2 separate regions of the Homo sapiens genome follow, and region 2 is linked to region 1. Evidence: fine-mapped expression QTL. A gene starts in region 1. The other region holds a variant in brackets. All regions are shown on one strand. Distances are between the middles of the regions.

The links.
Region 2: its variant is fine-mapped to the expression of LINC03082 in aorta (GTEx, PIP above 0.99).

The regions. Positions count from the first base shown.
Region 1 is chr13:110,125,536-110,133,867 of GRCh38, forward strand. It overlaps LINC03082 (long intergenic non-protein coding RNA 3082), which reads right to left and starts at 3,601. Exons shown (of 3, transcript NR_187462.1): 1 at 3,322-3,601. LOC101927712 (a long non-coding RNA gene) reads right to left here. Exons shown (of 3, transcript XR_931726.3): 2 at 7,555-7,665; 3 at 6,427-7,055. RefSeq lists enhancers at 563-1,371, 1,372-2,179.
Region 2 is chr13:110,052,091-110,060,422 of GRCh38, forward strand. It overlaps LINC03082 (long intergenic non-protein coding RNA 3082), which reads right to left. Exons shown (of 3, transcript NR_187462.1): 2 at 4,020-4,138. LINC00396 (long intergenic non-protein coding RNA 396) reads left to right here and starts at 1,195. Exons shown (of 4, transcript NR_126387.1): 1 at 1,195-1,221; 2 at 1,761-1,823; 3 at 1,924-2,092; 4 at 2,683-2,862. The variant C/T (reference allele first, on the strand shown) is at 4,977.

The DNA.
Region 1 (8,332 bases):
TGAGACACACTGTCTCCTGACAGAGCTCAGGAGAGCAAGAGGTGTGAGGAGATGCACTTGGTGCCCTTATGTCTTGGTGCACCGGGCACGTGGTCAAGCCTGTTCACATGCACAACTGTCCATGGACACAACCAAGGCACAGTCCAATGGCACTAGTCCAAGGGAGGGGTGAGGACTTGGGGGCAGGAATCCAGCCCTTCCCAAGCCCTAAACCCTTTACAACAGAAGGGCAACTAAATACACAGGGAGACAGGTAGACTCACAAGTGATCAGAATAAAAGCCAGTGCACACCCCAGATAACTGCAGCGGCCACGAGCCTTGTAAAGACCCATGTTTTACGGAGGCAGCCACCAGCTTGCAGAAGCTGAGCTTCCTGTGGCCCTGATTCTGCATTACTGAACTACTCATAGAACCACTGTTTCTGTCCTCAAAGCTTCTGTCTTGGTCCCATTGCCTGACTTTATAACAACCTTGAAATACCCACCAGGACTGGTGATCTCATTCAAGACACAGAGGTCCGTCTCAGGCACTGTGCTGGGGCCTGCCTGTGCCCAGCCTGCCTGTAGGACTTTGGAGTCCGCAATGTCGAAGTCCTTCTGCATTTACACCCTGTGGCCTGAACCCTGACATCATCTCACCCCCAGACCACCCAACCCATGACTCTTGGACACAAAAAGAAATATCTTCTCCATTAGAAACCAGCACCTGAACGCAGCCAGGGTCCCCGGTCACACCAGAAACTGTTGCTTTGACCAATCTCCACAGGGATTTTGACAATCAAGCATAGAAACCACCAAAAAAGTAAATACCGAGGTTGTATTTTCTTTTCTTTTTCCTTTTTCTTTCCTTTTTCCTTTTTCTTTCCTTTTCTTTTCTCACCAATGCATCCACTTGTTTGGACGAGCAGGTCATAAGGACAGGCAGGAGATGAGTCACATCTGACTTCACAAAAGTGCTTAAGCCTTTTCACAATCTCCATTTAAAGCCAGCCAAGCCTTTTAGAATTGCCCATCTCACAGGAATGTTTGTAACAAGGCTAGGAAGGAAGTGTGTGCTCAGGTCGGCCCGTCCCTGGCTCCCGGAGGCAGGCTCTCCGGTGCAGCGGCAGCTGCCAGCCCTGGGGTCGGGCTTCATATTTTCTCATGCCTTCAACAAGTCCTCCCTGGAGGAGGGGCAGTAAGCAGAAGGCAGTACAAGTGGCACATTCTCCTTCTAATGAGCACAGCACACTAACGTCTCTCGGAGGGGGCCCAGCTCTCCTCACGTTCCTCTGGGCCCAGGCTCCCTGCCAGCCTTTTCTCTTCCCCAGAGCATTCAATCGCTGTCAACAGAGCCAGACAAGAATAGAAGCCGCTCAGAGACTCTCTTTTGTTTTGCTGGGACACTTCAGCACATTCTCATGGATCCTTCAAAGGAAGGCAATTATCTGATCATTCTTGGGAGCAATTAAAATGTGGAAGGATACATCCTGCTTCAACCCGCCGAGTTTGTCTTTCCAAATCACATGGGCAATTGATTACACCATCAACAAACCCCATGTAACCCTCCAAGGAACGAGGTGCGTCCCTTGCAGTAGAAAACCGATAACCCAAGACATGAAGGTTCGAATGGATGATTGGCTTAGCTGGAATTGTGCTCCTCTGGAGGAGACTTTTTAAATGTATTCCTAGTTGCAAGTCCAGAAGCAAGGGAAGTGAGGCCCTCAGGGTTCTATCAGAGCCTGGGAAGGGGAGGAGAGCAGAGATGCTAAAGCAGTAGCAGAAGATCCACAGACCCCTGGAAGGACATGGAAGCTCGCTTTGAGCTGCTCCTTAGTTCATGGGGGTCTCTCCAGCATAAAGAGCTTCCTTCCTAAAATGGGAAGAGGGCTGTTTGCACAGAGAGAAGCGTAGCCTTAATACTGTACTTTGTCCATCCCTCCAGAAAGCCCAAGGGAGGGGGCAGATGGTTCATCTGCAAGTGATCCCAGGCCTAAAGCAAAGAGATGGATGGTCGGAGCCTCCGCGCGGTTTTTCCTGGCTACCTCCATACCACCATGTCACCTCTCTGTAAAGGCGATATAGGGAGCACCATCTGGGTGTTGTAGCTCATCTGGCTGTTGTAAGGAGTAAATGAGATGGGACGTGCCACACACATGATATGTGCCCGGCTCACAGGAGGCACCTTAGTAAGTGGTCACCATCAGATATACTAGTGAACCTGAGAGTGGCCCTTACCAACGTGGAAGGCTGGGGTGTTTGTAATCATCACTCAAGGCAAAGCAGAAAGAAATCTAGGCTATTTTTTAAGACTCATTGTGTTTGGTCACAGGCAAAAATAGAATCCATCCTCATGCAACCATCCTTTAAATAGTATTTCAACAGAGGGTTAAAGTGTTGGTTTGGGGTGTGAGAGTGATACCTTATTCATTCAGAAGTCCCTCAAAGAAGAGGATGGAGAAACAGACACGATTCCATGAAATGATCACTTTCCCCAGGCAATCACACCAAGGAAGGTCAAAGAACCTCCTCCCCGAAGGTTCACTGCTGGAGGTGGAGATCACAGCCAACTGACAATATAACTGCTGGCAGATATTTTTAGGTGGAAAGTCCCACCGTTTCCCGTACCTCACTGTGACCCTCATTACGGCATTAGGATGGGATTACCTTGCTCTCTTCTGAAATACTAGCTTATCCGTGGCACCAGCAACAAATACAAGCAGCTTGTCTGATGGAAAGGTCCTCTACTTAAGAACTAAACTTCCCCCAAATCACAAGCCCCTTTGCTGAAACAATGAAAAATTTAGGTAAGCTCTGGATTGAACTATTTCCCTCCCTTTGAAATAACTGGATGTTTAGTCATAACAAATAAGAATGATTCTGGTATCTTGTGGTCACGACATAGCATTTTTATGTTTTTTTTTTTTTATTTTTCACTTTACATCTCACTACATGGACATGCTACCTTCAATTCAACCCCAGGTTACATCAAAACCTCTTGACCTTTCATTTAAAGACAAATAAAAGGCAGCTGCTGGGCTGTGAAATTGTGAATAACAAACGGAACCATTATTTGAAAGGTTTCAAATTCTGATGAACAGAAAGATTATTTTGGAAAATCTATAGCGGAGAGTAGTATAATTATAACTTAGATTTGCGTGGTGCTCAATCCAAACTCATCTCCAAACTGAACGTGGTTTTCTAACAATAACATTCCTCCAAAAAAGGGGGCAGCCTACAAACCAACATAAGCGTAAGATGCACTTCCTGTCCAGCTAAAAATAAACCTGCAGACATTTGAAAGCAGCATAGAATCCTTTCTAACAATAAAAACAAACTCACCCATGTCGTTGGGCCAAGGCTTTGACATTTTAAAAATCATTATGGTGAAAAATAAACGCAACCTATAACGTGAGCTATTGTTAGAAATCCTTGAGAAAAATGCCTCAAATAGAGAACTCGAACGTCCACTCGCTAAAAATGAAACCGTTTTACTTGGGCATTGTCAAAGGTCGAATGGTTTTCTCCAAAAATGATGTTGAAGTCCTAACCCCCAGGACCTCAGAATGTCACCTTATTTGGAAATAAGGTCCTTGCAGATGTAATTAATTAGAACGAGGTCACATTGGAATGGGGTGGGCCCCGCATCCAATAAAACCACTGTCCTTATAAAAAAGAGGCACGCCACGTGAAGACCGAGACACACAAGAAGAACACGGGGTGTGGCTGAAGGCGGAGGTTGTGACGACGCATGTACAAGCCTGCAGGAGCATCCGCGAGCACCGCTGGCCCCACCGGAAACCGGGAAGAGGCAGGACAGCTTCTACCCCGAGCCTCAGAGACAGTCTGGCCTTGACATCACCTTGATCGTAGAATTCCAGCCTCCAGAATGGTGAGACACAAATTCCTGTTATTTTCAGCCAGGCAGTTTGTGGCACTTCGTTTCAGCAGCCTAGGAAGTGAATATATTCACTTCCATATACGTGAAATTGACATCAGTGAGGATTTGCTCTCTAGGCAGTAGATGTGAACCGGCCTTCAACGATTTTTTTTTTTCTGGCTGCATGTTGGGCGCTCCCAGCTTAGGGGGTGGGTGTGCAGGGAGTGGGGAGGGAGGCGCTTCTGCTTCTGTGGCTCTCCCATGGTCTCTTCCCACAACATCTTCTGCATCTCTGTGGATCCGGCTGCCCCCAGCGCAGCAGCCCGGGTGGGGTGGGAATGTCCAGCACTGCGTCGCTGCCAGCCCTCTGGGCGTTCCAAGTTCCTGGCAGGATCCGGATGCAGTGTGGTTGACCTTAACTACCCAGGAGAGGGTGAGCTCTCCTACAGAAGACTTGGACATCTTCTCTGCCTTCTCATTTCTGTGTCCACAAAAAATCAGCACAATGGACACTGGATCCTGCTCTCCCTTCCTTCTCTTTCCCACCAACGCACACTTTGGCAGTCCTGGCACCAGCATGGGATCCACCCCACGCACACCCACATGCACCCCACACTCACCTCCAGGGAAGAAGCACATCAGTGAGAGGAATGGCTCTGTCCTCAACTCAGTAGGAGCCAGCACCCACCCCTCCCCTCTGTTGCCACTTCAAAAGGTTTTCTTTGTTCGCTTGTTTCTACTTACCATTAATGTTCTTCAGGCTGGATAAGCTTTAAGGTGTGTCCCTTGACATATTAGATCTATTTTACTCTGCCATTTTATAATTAAACAGGGTCTGACTGAAGTTACCTTTGGCCCATGTATGTCTAATCCTACCAAGTCCTAGCCATGAAACAGGTGATATGTGTATAAATGAAAACAGTGGGTTAAGAGGATGCTTCCAGAAGTATTAAGGCACCCACGCACACACACAGACAAATACGCTCCACTGAAGATCATTTAGAACTGTGGGTACAGGGAAGCACTTAGAGAACTGTATTACAAGAAGATTCAGTGGAAAATCTACCACCAATCCTAATTCATTTCCCTACAGAACCTTAGTGTGCAGTTCGTAGCCCACCTTCAGCACCTGTATGGGATTGGGGCCACTGAGTATTCTGTGTACACATTCGTCATGGTCTTTTAAAATCACCCTCATTGTTGCTGGCTTCTGACTGCCTCTCAGCTGTGCATTAGTCAGGATGCTGCAGCGAACAGCTGACATTAAGGACCTTAGGATGAAGGGACATTTTACCAAGATAGGGGCAGAGTTTAGGAAAAGCAGTAATGTTTAGTCCACTAAACCAGGGGTCACCAGCCTCAGGGCTGCAGAGAGGGGGAAGAAGTCTTATCCATGGCCCTGGAGGGCAGCCCCATAGTGTTTTGTTTTGTTTTGTTTTGTTTTGTTTTGTTTTGTTTTGTTTGAGGTGGAGTTTCAGTCTTGTTGCCCAGGCTGGAGTGCAATGGCGTGATCTCGGCTCACAGCAACAACAAACGGCTTAGCTGGAATTGTGCTCCTCTGGAGGAGACTTTTTAAATGTATTCCTAGTTGCAAGTCCAGGAGCAAGGGAAGTGAGGCCCTCAGGGTTCTATCAGAGCCTGGGAAGGGGAGGAGAGCAGAGATGCTAAAAGAGTAGCAGAAGATCCGCAGACCCCTGGAAGGACATGGAAGCTCGCTTTGAGCTGCTCCTTGGTTCATGGGGGTCTCTCCAGCATAGACAACTCCCTTCCTAAAATGGGAAGAGGGCTGTTTGCACAGAGAGAAGCAGTAGCCTTAATACTGTACTTTGTCCATCCCTCCAGAAAGCCCAAGGGAGGGGGCAGATGGGAGGAGGCTCCACCTCCCGGGTTCAAGCGATTCTCCTGCTTCAGCCTCCCGAGTAGCTGGGATTACAGGCATGTGTCACCATACACGGCTAATTGTGTATTTTTAGTAGAGATGGGGTTTCTCCAGGTTGGTCAGGCTGGTCTCGAACTCCCGACCTCAGGTGATCCACCCACCTCGGCCTCCCAAAGTGCTGGGATTGCAGGCGTGAGCCACCATGCCCGGTGGGCAGCCCTATAGTTTGAGAAGGTGGTGACCAGAGCTGCAGCTTCCAGCAGAGAAACCCAACACCCCACAGCACCCTAACAGGAGACCCTGAGTAAACACCTCCTCTGTCCTCCTCCTGCTGCTGTTGCCCCCCATCCAGCCCCTGTTGGCCAGACGCCACCGGACCCAGGCACAACGGTGTCTGCTTCTGAGGTGCGGGCCGCCTCCCGGAGGGAACAGCAGGCGGAGAAGCTGATGCTGGGCTGCAGAGGATGCCTTTCTGAAAGCTCCAGTTATCAGTGGACAGAGACAGCAGCTAACCAATGCCTGTCAGGGAATCCCAGTCGGCATTTTCCTTTTCCTTTTGGAATTGAGCTTCTCAGGAAGAGTCTACAGTTCCCCACACTGAGTCTTATTCAGCAAACCACAGGACCCCAGGCAATCTCAAACGAATGCCTCTTTTTTTTTTTGAAATTCAACATTTTAATTGTGATATAACTTATGTAAAAACTTTCCAAAAAGTATCTAAGATATTCCACTGTACAACACATCAAAACTTTATCTGAGAAGCTGGAGACAATGAAGTATAAATAAGGCACACAGTTTACACTCATAATTGCATCCTAAACTGTTGTATAGTTCGTATTTACAACCCCCCATAACGTTTTTGCATCCTGGATTAGTCCTTCACATTTTGATATTTGGCATAATGTTCAAACACACTTTATACATCAAAAAGAGCAGCTGTGAGTGCATCCCCTGGCTCACGGGGCAGGCGGGAGCAAAAACCAGGACAGGGCAGGTAAAGGAGCCGCCCCTCCAGTCCTCGCTGGTAAGAGCCGCAGCAGAGAGCACTGAAGGCAGAGCACCTGATAGGAAGCGGGCTGTTAATTACACAAACAGGAGCAGAGGGGGGTGGGGCCTAGGGACCCCTCCCATGCCCACAGTCCTGCCAATTGCTCAGTGCCATCATTTATCGGGGGCCCCACAGGCAGTGCCGTCTTCATGGCTCCTCCTGGCCTCATTCACATCGCTGAGATGCCTCTCAAACACAGCTGTTCTCCACGGCCCACTCAGTGGATTTCACTGCTCTCATCTGTCAGTTTGCTTTTCAAAAGCTTATTCCTTTGTCCAGAGAAAAAAAGAGAAAATGAGTGTGTAGGCTCATCTCTAAGGAGAGTGGCAGAGATGCCACCTGCCAGTGCACAGGAGGCTGCAGGAAAAGAGGCAGAAACTCACAGGCCCCCAGGGAGCTCAGCTGGACAGGACTCAGAGCTCAGCAAAGGGTGGGGGCTCTCGGCTGGAGTCAGGATGCCTGGAGCCAGGGAGGCCAGGGCACAGGGGAAGAGGGCCTGCCCCTGGGGTGGGGCTGCCTGTTTCACACTGGTGAGAACGGCAGTATTGGTTGCTGATGATGACTCCTCACAACGCCCCCTTAGAAACCCTCGCATGCAACGGTTCCACATCATCCTGGCCCAGGAAGGAGAGAGCTGCATTTAAAAGGAGAAGGCAGGGCGAGGGAGGGAGACCCTATGGGCACTGCTTCATTTCTGCCTTTTCGTGAAGCTCATACACAGAATTGCTTTTTAGTTAAATGCTGGGGTTGTAGGACACACACCCTCACCTGTGATGGAAATTCTGCCAATATCGGGGAGAGCTGGTCTCTTCAACCTGTGCTGTGATGAATGGGGCTCTGCTTTTTCAACATTTCCCGGGAGCGCTCTGTTTCTTCTTCCTTGTAGTTTTAAAAGAACAGCTTCAATAACCTGGTAGTAAAGGAGAGGGGAGACCGGCGAAAAATCTAGCCCAGAAAAGAATGTTAAATACTGGGGGAAAAGCTCTTGGGAATTAGAATTTCATTTTATGTCTAGAAAGTCCAGTAAAATGTCAATAATATTGTGACAGGTTAGAATTATACGATCCTATTTCTCTCTTAGGAATATATGATCAATCTTTAACATTATGTTAAGGATATTATGGCAGATAAGGATATCACATAAGTATATTATGGCAAATAAAAAGAAAAACAGTATATTATTTCTGCGCCTATATTCGCATCCCTTTGCAATGTGACTTTGTGGCCCCTGTCCCCACCTCAAGAGGTAGAGTTCATGGTACCAAGCCCTGAATCTGGGCTTGGCCATGTGCTTTCCTTTGGCCAAGGAAGCATCAGCACATGTGACATCAGCAGAGGCTAAGTGCTTTTGCACTGAGGCCTCTCTCTTGCTGCTCTTGGGAACTCTGACTGTGTGGCACCACAGGAAGAGGCTGTGCTGCAGGGCGATGAGCAGGATATGCCTCCGGCCCCCCAGCCAATGCCAGATATAAGTGAAGCAATTGACCATCCACTGATAGGTGCTTGAATGAGCCAGCACCATAGAGAGCCATCCTGGGGGGCCCAG
Region 2 (8,332 bases), 73 kb before region 1:
AAGTCAGGAAATAACAGGTGCTGGAGAGGATGTGGAGAAATAGGAACACTTTTACACTGTTGGTGGGACTGTAAACTAGTTCAACCATTGTGGAAGACAGTGTGGTGATTCCTCAGGGATCTAGAACTAGAAATACCATTTGACTCAGCCATCCCATTACTGGGTATATACCCAAAGGATTATAAATCATGCTGCTATAAAGACACATGCACACGTATGTTTATTGCGGCACTATTCACAATAGCAAAGACTTGGAACCAACCCAAATGTCCATCAATGATAGACTGGAGTAAGAAAATGTGGCACATATACACCATGGAATACTATGCATTCATAAAAAATGATGAGTTCATGTCCATTGTAGGGACATGGATGAAGCTGGAAACCATCATTCTCAGCAAACTATTACAAGGACAAAAAAACCAAACACCACGTGTTCTCACTCATAGGTGGGAATTGAACAATGAGAACACTTGGACACAGGAAGGGGAACATCACACACCGGAGCCTGTTGTGGGGTGGGGGGAGGGGGGAGGGATAGCATTAGGAGATATACCTAATGTAAATGACAAGTTAATGGGTGCAACACACCAACATGGCGCATGTATACACATGTAACAAACCTGCACATTGTGCACATGTACCCTAGAACTTAAAGTATAATAAAAAAAAATGTGGCACACCGTGGAACACTATGCAGCCATAAAAAAGGATGAGTTCATGTCCTTTGCAGGGACATGGATGAAGCTAGGAGCCATCATTCTCAGCAAACTAACACAGGAACAGAAAACCAAACACCATATGTTCTCACTCATAAGTGGGAGTTAAACAATGAGAACATACGGACACAGGGAGGGGAACATCACACATGGGGGCCTGTTGGGGGTCGGCGGCTAGGAGAGGGATAGCATTAGGAGAAATACCTAATGTAGATGACGTGTTTATGGGTGCAGCAAACCACCATGGCACGTGTATACCTAATGTAACAAACCTGCACGTTCTGCACATGTATCCCAGAACTTAAAGTATAAGAATTTAAAAAATAGCCATTTTAGTGGGTTTCTTCCTATGTGTTTCTCTGAAGTCCTCCTCTCTTTTCTCTCATATGGACATCAGTCACTGGATTTAGGATTCATCCGAAATTCAGGATGAGTCATCTTAAGATCTTCAATTACATCTGCAAAGCCTCTAATTCCAAATAGTCACTCTCTGAAGTCCCAGGTGGGTGTGAACCTTTGGAGGACACAAGTCAACCCAGTGAGTAGGAAGTGGAAGTTGAGGTTCCTTTTTTCCACATGGATATCCAGTTCCAGCATGATTTCTGAAAATAACTTACTTTCTTTCTGCCATGATGTTCAAATATGCTTTATTCTCACCAAATTTTGGTCTGTTGGTTCTACCAATCACTGAAAGAGAAATGTTGAAGCCATGGAATTGTCTTGGTGGATTTTGTCTATTTCTCCACCAGTTATGCCATTTTCTTCGTGTATTTTCAAGCTCTGCTATCAGGCACACACACATCTAGAATTATTGTCAGTTTTTCCCTGTTCTTCATTTGGATAATTTCTATTGCCCTGCATCCAAAGGCACTATTCTTTTCTTCTCTCATATCCAAGCTGTTGTAAGCCAGTCCAGTAAATTTTTTTATTTCCCATATTATATTTCTCAGCTTTAGAATTTGTGTTTTATTCTTTTTAATAGTTTGGAATTTTTGTTAAAATCCCCAGCCATTCACCTTTTTGTTTCTCTTTTGCTTCAAGTCTCTGAAATATCAGCTGCTTTAAGTCCTCGTCTGCTCATTCCCACATTCCCACTACATCCAGGTAGGTCTCCACTGACCTTTTCCCCTCCTGGTTATGGTGTTCATCTCCCTGCTTCTTTTCACCTCTAGCGATTGTTTTAATTGTGCGTTTAACATTATAGGATGCCATCCTGCTGAAATGCTGCACTCTGTCGTTGGAGCTGTGGGTGTCTCTGAAGTCCTCCTCTCTTTTCTCTCATATGGACATCAGTCAGATGTAAGGGCTGCTGAGTTTTGCTTGGTCAGCAGTGAATTTATCGGTGGGACTGGCTGACTTTCGCAGGCTTCCCTGTAAGTTTAACTGGAGAAGTCCCCGCATAGCCCTACCTGGCAGCTGAGAGAGACCCGTGCACGGCGCGTGCCGTTCTGTGTCCCTGTTGAATGCAGGTGTGCAGTGCGGTCTCCCCAACCTTCTGCGTGGGCTACTCTGGACTCTCCGTTCTGCTCAAAGTGTTCTTTGTTCTCCATGAGGCTCAAGGGGACTCTCCGCAGATTTCTTCAGATCCTGTCAGACACCCACTGCAAACCTTGCCACCTCCTCACACACCCCAACCTCTACCATCTGTCCGCAACTCCATGAGGCCACCATGCTGTACATGGGCTCCACCCGCTCATGCCACAGTCCAGAGAGAGCATCTCAGCAATCCCAGAGCACACCCCACGCACCCGCCAGGAATCCCACCCTTGGCTGTGGTCCTCAGTGTCTGAAAACAGGTGCTTCATGCATTCTGTTCAGTTTCTACTTGTTGATGTGGAGAGGGATACTTCAGCACCAGTACTCTGTTGTGTCTCATAAATGGGTCCTAATTAGTATTTTCTTACTTTCTGGAAACAAAAGTTTGGTCACTTACTGTGTTTTCCTTTTTCTTCTTTTTTTTCAGGCTTTCAGGAAGCTCCTCAGAGGTGAATCAGATAATGAAGCAGAACAAGATCTGCCCTTGTGAATTGCTTATTTGATTGCCATCATCTTAATTTTAATTTTATTATAAAGTGTGTAGGCAACACAGTTGAAGAAAACTGTGAAGCCACAGGAGCCTAAGCAATAGATTCGATTCCTTCCATTTGACTCCATTGTCATCCTTCCACTTCATATCCCTATCCCATCCTACCTGGTCTCATAGTGACTGTCGAATCCCCCTTAGCCTGCATTCTGAACAAATGCACCTAGTTGGATTCCTCTCTCATCCTTGCAAAAACAAAACAAATAAAGCAGAAACACCCTTTGCTCATGTTTCTACCAAAATAAGCATTGCCTGTGAGCTCTATGTGCCTTACTTGTGTTGTGCCCTCTGCAGCGCCCAGCAAGATGCCTGATCCACAGTCAGCAGACAACAAACAGCTTCAAGGCTCTGTTGGGTCAGGGCAGTCTTTAGATGAAAACCCTGCTCAGTGAGGAAACCACAGTCTCACCACAACGGGGCATTCCAGGAGCTTGTCTGTGTCAGCATAGATGTTCGCCTCTGCACAAGGTGTTGTGAATTACTGTACTTGCCCTTCTTCTCTATCTAGGTCATTTTTCTTTTCCAATGGTGCCTTTAATTTAGATTTGGGAGGGGTTAAGATACTGGCAGCTCTTTGTTCTTTGAGCTTATAAAACAATGACAGAGCTAGAGTGTTCTTCTGAGCAAGGCGATCTGCTGGTTGATAATGATGATATGAGAGAGAAATAGCAGATGTGTTTTAGTGTCAACACTGAAGGACATTCCGAAGGCCTCATCCCTAGCTCAGACATAGGGCTCCACGCAGCTGCTGATCTTGTCCATTACTGTATCAGTCAGGTTTCTCCAGAAAAACAGAACCAACAGGAGATGAGAGAGAGGACAATTTTAAGAAATTTGCCATGCGATTGTGCGGCGGCCGAATCCAAAATCAGTGGTGCAGGTCAGCAGCTGGAAACTGAGGCAGGAGCCAGTGCTGCCATGTTGAGGTGGAACGTCTTCCTCTATGGAAACCTCTGTCTTTAACAGTAAGGCCTATGGCTGGCTGGGTGAGGCCCACCCACATTACAGAGTGTAATCTCCTTTACTTCAAGTTAACTGATTGCAGAGACTGAGCACATCTGTAGAATACTTTCACAGCAACACCTAGATCCGTGCTTGATTAAATACACGTAAAGAATTGCTTATGGAGGCATCCATATAAACAAGTTTTAAAGGGATTGGTTTTAAGTTTCATGGCAAAAAATACAGAAGGTAATTAACGTACAGAAAATATTTACCCTTGGTCAAGTGCAGTGGCTCATGCCTGTAATCCCAGCACATTGGGAGGCTGAGGCAGAAGGACTGCTTGAGGCTAGGAGTTCAAGACCAGTCTGGGCAACGTAGGGAAACCTTGTCTCTAAAAAAAAAAAGAAAAAATTTAAGTAGCTGGGCATGGTGGTGTACGCCTGTAGTCCCAGCTACTGGGGAGGGTGAGCTGGAAGGATCACTTGAGCACAGGAGGTCAAGGCTGCATTGAGTCATGATGGCACCACTGCACTCCAGCCTGGGCAACAGAGCGAGACCCTGTTTCAAAGAAGGAAGGAAGGAAGGAAAGGAAGGAAAGGAAGGAGAAAGGAAGGAAGGAAAGAATATTTACCCTTGGCAGTCATCAAAGAAATACAAATTCAAACAAGATTCCACTTTTCACTTTTCAAATGGATGAGATGTTGTTCTTCGTCGGATATTTTTAGACCCCTTATTGTCCCTAAAGTCATGTTCATGGACTGTCATCCCTCACTTTTTCCGTAACAACATTTCATCCCAAATTTCTTAGGTGTCTTGATTTTCTGTCAAATTGAGGCAGGAGAGGAAAGAGACTGGGTCCTGCAGACATGTGACAAAGCAACACAGGTCCTGATGGCCCTCACACATCCGGGCACGTTCCCTCCCCCACTTGCACCCCTTAACAAGTAGACTGAGTCACGGAGCAGGAAGGGGTGGAGGTGCTCCTAAATCTGCTGACCAGGCTGAATTCCTGACCATACAAGGAAGGACCTATCTATCTCTTTGAGTGATGCCTTCTGAGGTCACTGAAACAGGACTCTGGCATTCCCTATAAGGACCTGACCAGGTCCAGCTGCCTGAAGACCAGAGGGACTGCAGCCTGACCCTCACGCCTTTCTCCTCATTTGAATGTCATCGTAATATTAAAATCACTGCCCAGGGTGGGGCTCCTCTGCCATTTTCTGGTCACC[C/T]GATGCAAGTTAAAGCATGAAGTCCCACTGCGCAAGCAAAGAAAAGACAAAGGCCTCACCTGAACATGCATGGACGTCACTCTGTTCCCACCTCACCTTCCTGCCGGTGACACGCTGGGGGGCTGGTGTCCAGATCCTTTTCCCGCAGCTGCTCCGTGTGCCCAGCCCCAGCCTGTGAGCCCAGCCTGGGAAGAATCCCCAGCTGGCCTGGTGTCACCATCCACTCACACAAGAGCCAAAGAACTCAAGGTCCGGATGCAGTCACAAAATAAGCTCTTTTCTTAGCTTCTATAAAAAGCCAGGGAGGGAGGGGTTTTCAGTCACTGGGAGGAACAAGAAACCAAATAACCAAAAAGAGGCAGCCGAGCCCTGGAGCTGCCACACATCCAGCAAACATCATCAGACCCTTCGGGATGCCAGGACAGAGGTCAGAACCCAGAACCCCAGGATGCCAAGATCGAGGTTCCTTCCCTCACCGAATTATTTTTAAAGTTGATACAGTGTAACTGAAAACATTAAATTATATGTGACCTGCAGACACCAAAGCCATCCTGAAATGTAGGAATCTCCCAAGCCCTGGGCTGCCCTCACCTGCCGCCTGGCTGTACTGCCCTCCTGGGCTGTGATCATATATGCATGCGAGGATCTCAACAAAGTAATCCTGTCCTCAGCACACGCAAAGCCTTAGTTCACTGCACCCCTCTGGCGTACGGCAGGGCTATGATACCCCTTAAAATTGTCCTTGATGAGATAAAGAATTGAAGGAAAAAATCAGCAAAAACCTTTTTTCTTTCTCTTGCAAATAAAAAGTATGACCAACATAGCAAGAGAAAAGAGTGGGAGAACAGAATCAAAGTAGCTTTAAAAATACATCATCTCCCAGAAGTCAGGAAGAACATGATTAGCATATATGACTATGCAAACATCAAACAAATTAAACTAATGCATGCTTTTAAAATACCATAAACAAATTAAAAATCCACTTAAAAATATTTACAACATAGAAAACATATCAAGACCCAATTTCCTTACTATGCAAATACTACTCACAAATTGACAGAAGAAAAAAACTTAAATCACCTTACATAAAAATAAGTAAAGTTTAAAAACACAGACAAACATTAAAATATGTACACATTTAACATATAATTATAAAGGAACTTTAAATAAAAAGAAGACATAGGTTTTTACCTGCTAGACAAAAAACGAGATAAAGAGCTTGGTAATTTTCAGTGAGGCCAGGAATAAACAAACATCCTTTCACTTGAGTGGAATTGGCTACAGCCTCCGTGCAGGGCATTTTTACAGTAGCAATCAGTGATTCAAAATGCAAGCCCCCCTTATACTAGTGATTCCACTTCCAGAAATGTACTTAATACTTGATCAAGGCTGCAGGTATATGTTGTACAATGTTCCCTGCAGCAATTTCCTGAAGCTGGAAAAACAGTTGGAAGGAAGCTAAGTGTTCACAAATAGATGTCTGTTAAAATTATTATAGAATGTCCTCCCAAACAGCACACGGTCTTTTAAAAGAATGAGGTAGACATATATTTGCTGACATGGAAAATGGTCCAAGTAATATTCCGTGAAGGCAGGGAGCAAATTGCAGAAGTAGAATAGCATTTGAGTAAACATTTCTGGAAGGATGCTCACCAAAAAATGTCCAGAGTGGTGAGCTTGTAGGGACAAGGCAGGGATTCAGAAAGAAATGTTGCTTTTCACTTTGTGCCATTCAGTAACATTTGAAACTTTGTCCATAAGCATACATACATTACTTTTGTAATAAAAAACTAACTTAAAATTTTAAAAAATTAAAACAATAAAACAGATATTGAAAGTATATTAACATACTGATATATTTTAACAGCTCTGAATTTTGAGAAATGTCTTGGCTTGAAAGGTCATTAAGGGTGAAAAGAGACTACTGAATATGATATTTTTAGTAGAATCCCTTGTTAAATGGGATACCCACTACTATTAGTTAGGATATAAAGATAAATATTAATATAATACTTACAGGCACATGCCTGTAATCCCAGAACTTTGGGAGGCTGAGGCAGGTGGATTGCTTGAGGCCAGGAGTTCAAGACCAGCCTGGCCAACATGGTGAAACCTCGTCTCTATCAAAAATACAAAAAAAAAAAATAGCCAGGCATAGTGGCACGTGCCTGTAATCCCAGCTACTCGGGGGGCTGAGGCATGAGAATCACTTGAACCCGGGAGGTGGAGGTTGCAGTGAGCAGAGATTGAGCCGCTACACTCCAGCTTAGGTGACAGAGTAAGACTCCGTCTCAAATGGAAGCCCCCTTTAATAGTCTGCATTATAATATTGACTAATATTTGTAACACTTTGATTCACAACTACACTATTGAAGGCACTACTGAAGGCACTTCACTACTGAAGGAAGATATCTGCCATAGTTACTGGCAATTTATTTTACCCCCTTACCTTAAATTTTACATTATTGTTCCCTCTTAAAAATGATACAGTCATCACAGTTCTTTCATTTTGCCAGATGTGAACCTTTTATCCAAAGGGAGTTTTGAAAATGATGTAGATTTTTCTTCTCTGCAAAGCATATTCAGACTATTTGGGAAGTTGTAGATTTCTCTGGGGTGGACCTAGTTCCTGACTCCTGGAGCTCACAGTCTGTTCCTAAGCTAGCCAGTCCATGGCATGTCACGTCCTAATAAATAAGATTTCAAATGGTGACTGTGATTCTTCATAGGAATATAAGAAGAGCAATCTCTCTCCAGTCGTTTTTTCTTGCATTTCCAGCTTGTAGTCACAGTTCAATCAACCTTCCAATCCACTACTTCCAGACTTAGCTCATCAGTTAATTTCTTTCCTGGGCCTGGCACTTCTTTATTTCTTCTACTCCAATCCCCGAAAAAAGTTGAAAGTGGAATAAAGAAAAAATAGGATAACTATCTCCACCAATGACCCGACTCACCTCTTATAAGAAATCAATTATAAAGTATTTTAGGCAATTAAAAATATAAAGCAGTATTTTAGGTGTGCCCATCAGCAATGACTGGTTTGCAACCTTTTTTTTTTTTTTTTTTTTTGAGACAGAGTCTCGCTCTGTTGCCCAGGCTGGAGTGCAATGGCGCGATCTCGGCTCACGGCAACCTCCGCCCCGTGGGTTCAAGCGATTCTCCTGCTTCAGCCTCCCGAGTAGCTGGGATTACAGACACCCACCACCAGGCCTGACTAATTTTTTTTGTATTTTTAGTAGAGACGAGGTTTCACCATGTTGGTCAGGCCGCTCTCGAACTCCTGACATGGTGATCCGCCCGCCTCGGCCTCCCAAAGTGCTGGGATTACAGGCGTGAGCCACGGTGCCCAGCCCTGG